Linked DNA regions of Homo sapiens. The protein of the gene in region 1 purifies or fractionates together with the protein of each later gene. This does not show direct contact. Each region holds a gene or a part of one and is shown in the gene's direction. Other genes may lie near its edges. The genes, in order: MACIR and PPP2R2B.

Evidence for each region.
Region 2: the proteins of MACIR (region 1) and PPP2R2B purify together in Homo sapiens (co-immunoprecipitation; one large-scale study listed by IntAct). This does not show direct contact.

The regions. Positions count from the first base shown.
Region 1 is NC_000005.10:103,265,197-103,269,025, forward strand, and holds part of MACIR (macrophage immunometabolism regulator), read left to right. Parts: intron 1-711; 5' UTR 712-801; intron 802-3,829. UniProt on the Homo sapiens protein: Regulates the macrophage function, by enhancing the resolution of inflammation and wound repair functions mediated by M2 macrophages. The regulation of macrophage function is, due at least in part, to its ability to inhibit glycolysis.
Region 2 is NC_000005.10:146,592,131-146,595,959, reverse strand, and holds part of PPP2R2B (serine/threonine-protein phosphatase 2A 55 kDa regulatory subunit B beta isoform), read left to right. Parts: intron 1-2,897; coding exon 2,898-2,989; intron 2,990-3,829. UniProt on the Homo sapiens protein: The B regulatory subunit might modulate substrate selectivity and catalytic activity, and might also direct the localization of the catalytic enzyme to a particular subcellular compartment.

The DNA.
Region 1 (3,829 bases):
TTCAGTCACTCTCTTTTTTTGTTGTGTTATCCAAGAGACTTCTAATCATTTGCCTCGCATCAGTCTTATGAAAGATTTACATTGTTGCTGCTTTATGGCTACAATGAGTCGATACCAAAAATTAATTGCATAATAATAGCATCACACGTTGTAAAGAGCTTTGCAGCATGTAAAGCATTCACCTACCTCATTTCATTTGATCCATCTAACAACTGTATTAGGGAGGAAGGGGGGTTATTACGGTCCACATTTTAGAGATTGATATTTATGCAGGGTCAAGAGGCAGAGTTCTTGGCAAGGCCAGAGCTAGGAACTATGGCCTGTGCTTTTGATCCTAGCCTAAGCATTATTTTTTTTCCATAGAGTACTGTGAATCGGTTGAACACATGAATAGGACTAGGATGGTGAAACCAATACTTATTACCTTACTTTTTCTTGTCTCTTTATTTAGCCCAGTTAGGTACTCCTAGTCTCTAGGTAGAATTTAAGTAACAGAGTACAGAGAAATACACATGATAAAATGTTTGAGGATGCATTTAGGTGAACAAACTCAACATCAATTGAATTAATTAATTATTGGGTCCTATATAACCTATACTTGATGTTACTACCTCCTGCTAGTTTTATTCTCTTTTGCAGTTAGAATTGATATCATGTTATAAGTTGTGTTACTTGTTAAATTAAAGGTTTATTTTTGTATTTCATGTTTAGTACCTGGAGTAGAACAGAAAAATTATTATGTCTGTGTTCCCTTGGGACTCATTGGAAATTGTACAGTGACATCTTCTGGGATTTAGTCTGGTAAGTTATATTTTGCTTTTTCCGTTCGTTAACAGTTGTATGAACACAATACCATAATGTGTTTTTTAAAGACTACATAAATAAACAAGTGAATGTGAAATGTCAGTTAATCAAGTGAATGTGAAATGTTGGTGTATTATTGCAAATATGTATACTATAATTACAAATTTTTAATGGTGAGAAATGAACTTATTGTTGCAATATGCAAACATTATTTTATTTGAAATGTTTGGCTAAGTTTTCCTTCCTTTAAATTTCTTCAACGTAAAGATCTTATGAAATAATATTTCAAAGTATAGTAGTTAGAGGTAACTGTTCCAATTTGGGGCAAATTTTAGTAAAAACATTAATCTCCAAACATTGCTGAAATAATTTGCAAAAAATTCTGGTTATATATTATCATACATAAAGAATGAGCCAACAGGTGTCTGAAAGGAGCATTATTTTCACTTAGTCGTACAGCAGTTCACTGAAAATGTGACATTCTTTTTATCACACCCTGAATTTAAACGGTTAAAAATATGCAATGCTGTTTTCTTCCTTTAGTTGTCTTTTTTCAGTGTGTCATCTGTGTATCTTTGCTGACATAGTTGTCCATGTGTCTCGAAGTCTTTGAAGGGAAAAAAGAAATTCATAATGAGCTATGGTAGCTCTTTAGCATCCTTAAGACTATATTAGTGTGACTTCATGCTTTGGTGTGTCATTCTACTTGGCCATTATCTTTGTGCATCCTTGCCTTGAATTATGTAAAGAGATCATAATCCTTAGAGAAAGCGGAGTTTCATAATAAGTGATTTCTAAATTTCTAGTCAGCAGCAGAATGATTCAAAGGAATGGTAGGGAAAAACAAATACTTTAATCTCATTAAGTAGATAAAACCTATTACATTTATGAAAATGCATTTTCGAACATTGGAAAATTGGAAACGTTACTAAAATTTTCAGTTTTGAGGAAAAGAGTAAGAAGTTTGAAAACCATAGTACAAAGTACTTGGAGAGGATATTGAATAAAAAACAATGTGGCCTGGTCACTGACTCAGCTAATAGAAATAAAGCACAAAACTAGAGCAATGGGTAGAAACTACAGGAATGTATGTGTATCTATGTCTATCCATCTATCTCTGTATATACCTATATTTATACAGTTGTCCCTTGGCATCCTTGGGGGATTGGTTCCAGGACTTCCCCCAGGTACCAAAATCTGATGATACGTAAGTCTCTGATACAAAAATGGTATAGTATTTGCCTATAACCTATGCACATCCTCTTGTATACTTTAAATAATCTGTAGATTACTTATAATACCTATTACAATGTAAATGTTACATAAATAGTGGCTGTACTGTATTATTTAGGGAATAATGACAAGAAAACAGTCTATACATATTCAGTGTAGATGTAATTTTTTGCTTTTTCAAATATTTTCTCTCTGTGATTGGTTGAATCCATGGATGCAGAACCCGTGGAGACAGGGTTGACTGTATATATGCATGTACATACAGATATATGTGTAAATAAATCGACATTCTAGCAGAGCTGCACAAGGTGAAATGAGTCATCTTGGGAGGCAGTGAGTTGCCTGTCACTGAAGGTGTTCAAACATACACTGGGAAACTATTAAGATTCCTTTTGATTCCAAAATTATACGGTACAAAAAAATTTAAAATTTGGAGGACCATCTGAAACGTGGAAATATGTGACAAAGAGTTCATTTATTTTTAATGTCAGGTTTATTATAACTTAGTAAAATCCGTCCTTTTAAAGTGTACGGTTTGATGCATTTTGACAAATGTATCCAGTTATGTAATGACCACTACAGTCAACAAATAGAACATTTTCATCACCCCCCAAAATTCCCTTTTTCCCCTTTGTAGTTATCCCCTCTCCCCACCCTAGGCCTTGGCAATTAATGATTGATTCTGGCAAATAGTTTTGCCTTTTCCAGAATGCCACGTAAGTAGAAACATGTAGTATATAGGTGTAATGTCTGCTTCTTTCACTTAATGTTTCCCCAGATTGTTCCACTTCATTGCTGAGTGGTATCCATTGTAGGGATGGACTGCAGTTTGTTTATCTCTTTCCCTGTTGATGGATATTTGGATTGTTTCCAGTTTCGGTGTTTGTGAATGAAGCTGTCATAAATATTCACATTCAGGTGTTTGTATGGACGTGTATTTTCATTTTTCTTGGGTTAGATATCTATGAGTATGGTGGCTGTGTTGTTTAATGAACATTTATTCAATTTTATAAGTAAATGCCAAACTGTTCTCTAACGTAGCTGCACCTGACAAAGGCTTCTAAGTAGCTAAAATAACTACGCCAAAGTGTGTGCAGATGAAGGAGCCCGATTCTCATTCAGCACAGATTTATTTTTATTTTATATGCAGTTTTAACACGTTTGGTTAGCAGATATTTCCAGCCCACAGAGGATTAGGAACAGTAAATTAGAAGGCCTAGGGGTAGGTTGTTAGCAATTATAAGCAGCCAAAAATTATGTTCACCAACATGACTATACAGTAATTACTGATTAAAAACAAAGGAGGGACTTAAAAGAGTGAAACTCTTCTATCTGATAAGTTCTATCTGACAAGTTCCCAAACCTATATGCATATTAGAATCACCTGGGAATCTTTTACAACTTGCAGAACCCAGGCTACACCCCAGATCAGTTAAATCACAAATCTGGGATGGAAAACAGACATCAGCAGTTTTTGAAGCTCCTTGCATGATTCTGGTGTAGACAAGTTTGGGAACCACATGCTAGAAGCACAACATGGACTTGGAGCCAGGGGGCCTGGGTTGTAATTATGGGCATTAACTATCTATGTGGCTCTGGGCAGGACCCTGTCTTGGTGGTTTCAGTGTCTTCTCTATATTTCAAGGTGGATGTTCCAGGTAGGTTATGTCCAAGATGATTCTGGCATTAAAACTATACCACTCTAGCCAGGGGCGGTGGCTCGCACCTGTAATTCTAGCTACTTGGGACATTAAGGAGGGAGGATTGCTTGAGACCAGCCTGGACAACATAG
Region 2 (3,829 bases), about 43 Mb from region 1:
GCCTCATAGCAGTCCACTAACTATATGACACTGGACTCCCACAAATAAATATGAGAAACACTGTACTGGGACACTCAGTCTGGCGTCCAAAATCCCATGCACAAATTAATAGGATCATAGAAAAGTCATACTAGGAACATGAAGAAAGAACATCAAATAGGATGAGTTTTAAGTTCTCTCTTGCTCCAAGCTCTAGAGGTTGCTCATGTATACATCTCACTTTATTCTTTCCTCTAGTAGAAAAAGGTCCCTCTGGTTTGCCTAAGAAGACTTTTTTTCTGTGCAACAAAACATAAATACAGCATACCTTCATAGTAGACATTCTTTTTCTTTAAATGCTGTCAATTGGAGGCAGATAGGAGCTACCCAGACCTTAGGTATGGTGGAGAAATAATGGTTCAGACTAGGTTTTCCCTTGAATCTATCCCAACTTCTATCTTTCAAGAATTATTTACAGAGTTCTCAGCAATGTCATTCCTGCTAATGGGCGTGACTTCCAAAGCACACATGTTTTGACACTTATAGAAACACTGCAGGTGAGTAATAAGACAAAATGCCGAAGGTGAATGGTGACAGATGAGGAAAGGTTCATCACAAAGCAGACATATGGAACTAGACCTTAAAAACCTTGCCACTGCCCAGTTTATATACCTTTACTGCTGTGCCCCCTAGTGAAGGTGAATGAGTTAGTTTATAGCAGAGATGCCTCTGTAAGGGCAGGACACAGCCTCACCCTTGCAGCCCCCAAATGCACCTAACAATGCCAAGAGCACTGCTGTAGGGGTATTCCCTTGTCACCAAAGCACTGAAGCTGTTACCCTGACAAGGCCTGGAACTGTTTGGAAGTGAGAGAGTAAAGGTGGGGGAAAATTAATTTGCAGAGTTAGAAATAACTTCCTCTGTCCAAATAACTCAGAGCTTTTCAAATACCCAGAACATCTAATGGAACATAGGATGAGCCTGACCTCGTTCCTTTGCCCAAGACTAAGAGCCTGAAGCTCTGCATCCAGCAGAACTGTTGGAGTCGAAGGAAGAGAAAGAGCCGCAGTTGCAGGAAAAAAGAGATCGAATCATCACTCTTAACTTAAACACCAATGCCCTTGGTAGCCTCCCTCTGCTTTCACACAGTTCTATCTCCTTCTCTCTCAGCCTCACTTGAGTTCATTATCACAGCTCCTGTCAAGGACTGAGGACCCACCAGAGCAAGCTGGAGGCAGGTTGCTAGTGCAGCTCAGAGTGTGCACTCCAGAGCCTGATACCGGGGCTCAGTTCCCTCCCCTTCTGTCACTTTTTCTGTGTGATCTTGGACAAATGATGTCATATCTCTGTGCTTCATGCTCCATTAAAGTAAAGAGAATGAAAGTACCTACATCATAAGATGGCTTTAGAGATGAAATGAGGTTTTGACAGATAAAGCACCTGGCTAATAATGACAAGCCAGCATATTGGGTATGCCCGTTATTATTGCCACTCCGTGCTAGTGGGTTCAGGAAGGATTACCTTCAAAACAGAGAACCCAGGCTACTACTCTCTGAACCTTATTCATCTATTTGGCATCTACAGCTGAGTTGCTGAATGTAGCTGGAGAAAAATATTCAACTATGCTTGATGAGCCTTATTTGACATACATGTCCAACAACGTCAAGTGTCCCCTGGTGCCTTCCAGAAATCTGACACTGTTTCTCAACCCTTTCTCTCTCCTGCTCACTCTTAGTTGATAACCATGCTGGCTGCTTTCACTGGAAAAGAGAAACCAGGAAAGAATCGCCACATACTCCAGGACAGCACCTTTCACCTCAGAGTCTACTCGACAGCTCCACATGTAGACATCTCTAAACCATTGTACCCAAAAGTGAACATGGTACCTACTCCTTCCACTTGCTCAGGAGAAAGATCAGGGAGTCATCTTTGACTCCTGTTTTTCTCTCCACACCTCAGAGTTGACCCAAGTCCTATCTGCTCTTTCCCTAAACAAAAGGAGAATCTGACCAGTCCCCATCACTGCTCATGCCCTGGTCCAGGCCAGAATCTATCACTCAGGTTATAACTGGTCTCCCTCCCTTTGCCTTTGCACCCTTAGGATCCATTGCAACACAGCAGATTCAGCAATCCTTTCTGTGAGGTCTCTTCTTCCTCAGAATAAAGGGCCTATGTAAACTGATCATCCTCTCCCCCAGCTGCTTACTCACTCCTCTCCCACCACACTCCCTCCAGGATTCCTGCCTCTAGGCCTTTATGTTTGCTGTTTCCTATGCTTGGAGAGCCTTCCCCTCACCCCAAACCCAGACATCACTGTGGCTCATTCATCTCCTGCAGGCTTCTGCTCCAGTGCTACCTCATCCAGTGAAGCCCTGACTACTTGCCCTGTATAAAATAATACACCCCCGACAAGATCTCCCAGGCTCTTTTTCCATACACTTTTGTTCTATGATTTTATCACCATCTAAACATCTTATTTATTTACTTGGTTATATAATCTGTCACCTGACACTGGGTCAAAAGCACTGCAAGGATATTTGGCTCACTGCTGCATCTCAAGTGCGTAGTAGGTATTCAGTAAATATTTGTTGAATAAAAGACTGCATGAATGGTGATCTCTAATGCCTGTGAGCAAATCAGCTTAGAAAATGAGAATCTACCACTTATTTAGTCTTACTGGATGCCACTGTCTATACAAGCAAGCTTGATTAATCCATATCATCTACATGAGAAGCTCATCAACCCATCCTAATGTCCTACAGCTAAAAGGGCCAAGCCTAGGTTCAGATCCAAGGCCATCTGATTCAAAGAGCATGTACAATGAAAGATTTAACAGCTCACATCAGAAGAGGAGGTGTTTGCAGAAATAATTACTGTTTAAAATAATAACTGACCTTCTCGATATGTTTCCTCTCCAGGTTCATGACTACCTCCGCAGCAAGCTGTGTTCCCTCTATGAAAATGACTGCATTTTTGATAAATTTGAGTGTGTGTGGAATGGGTCAGACAGGTAAGAAAGGCTCTGTGGCTGAAGAACCTTCCAAAGATTGTCTTGAAGAGGCTCAGGGAATTTATCCTAAGTAGAGTACAGCCAAAGGGAGGTCAAAATTGGGCCCCAAAACCTGGCTGAAATGCATAATGTGGGCCCCTAGTGACCCTTGAAGTCAAGGCTGGAAAGAAGAGAAGGATGTAGTAAGGCCTTTGAATCCTGTTTCTGAACTGGCACAGATAACACCTTAATGTTAATAAGAAAGTCCTATCTTTTTCACACAAGACACCTCCAGCACTAGGTCAACATGCCTAAATGAAGATCACTTATCCACCAGCAAATTCCAGCCTGAACAGTTCAGATTAATGCCAAGTAGGCTTTCCAGATCAAAAATTATCCCTTGAAGCTGCTAGTGGAGACCTGGCCAACGGCCCTGGTAGTTCATTAACTGAATTCTAGTCAACCTCATTTATCACATTCCCTCAAAGTGATTTATTACTATTTTAAGGCCTTTGATTTGAACAGTGCTTCATAATACCTCCCAATAGTTCATTTTTAGTTTGACAAATACAAATGATTCTCTGATTTCCATGAGAACTAAGTGCAAGCTACCAGGGGCTGATTTCGTTCCTTGATGAAGGTGGCACCAATAATAGTGTTTGAAAGCATAGAAATTCTGTTATGGCAAGACATTCAGAGATTCAAGCTTTCAGTGAATATGAACTGTCTCTCTCTCACACTCCACCTGTTTCTTGGCTTTCTTTGCCACTGATCCAAAATGAATCCCCTCCTTAGCAGGCTTGGAAGGAGTCTCCACGTGGCAAAGGACCCAAGTCACACTGACCAGTTGGTATAGGACAG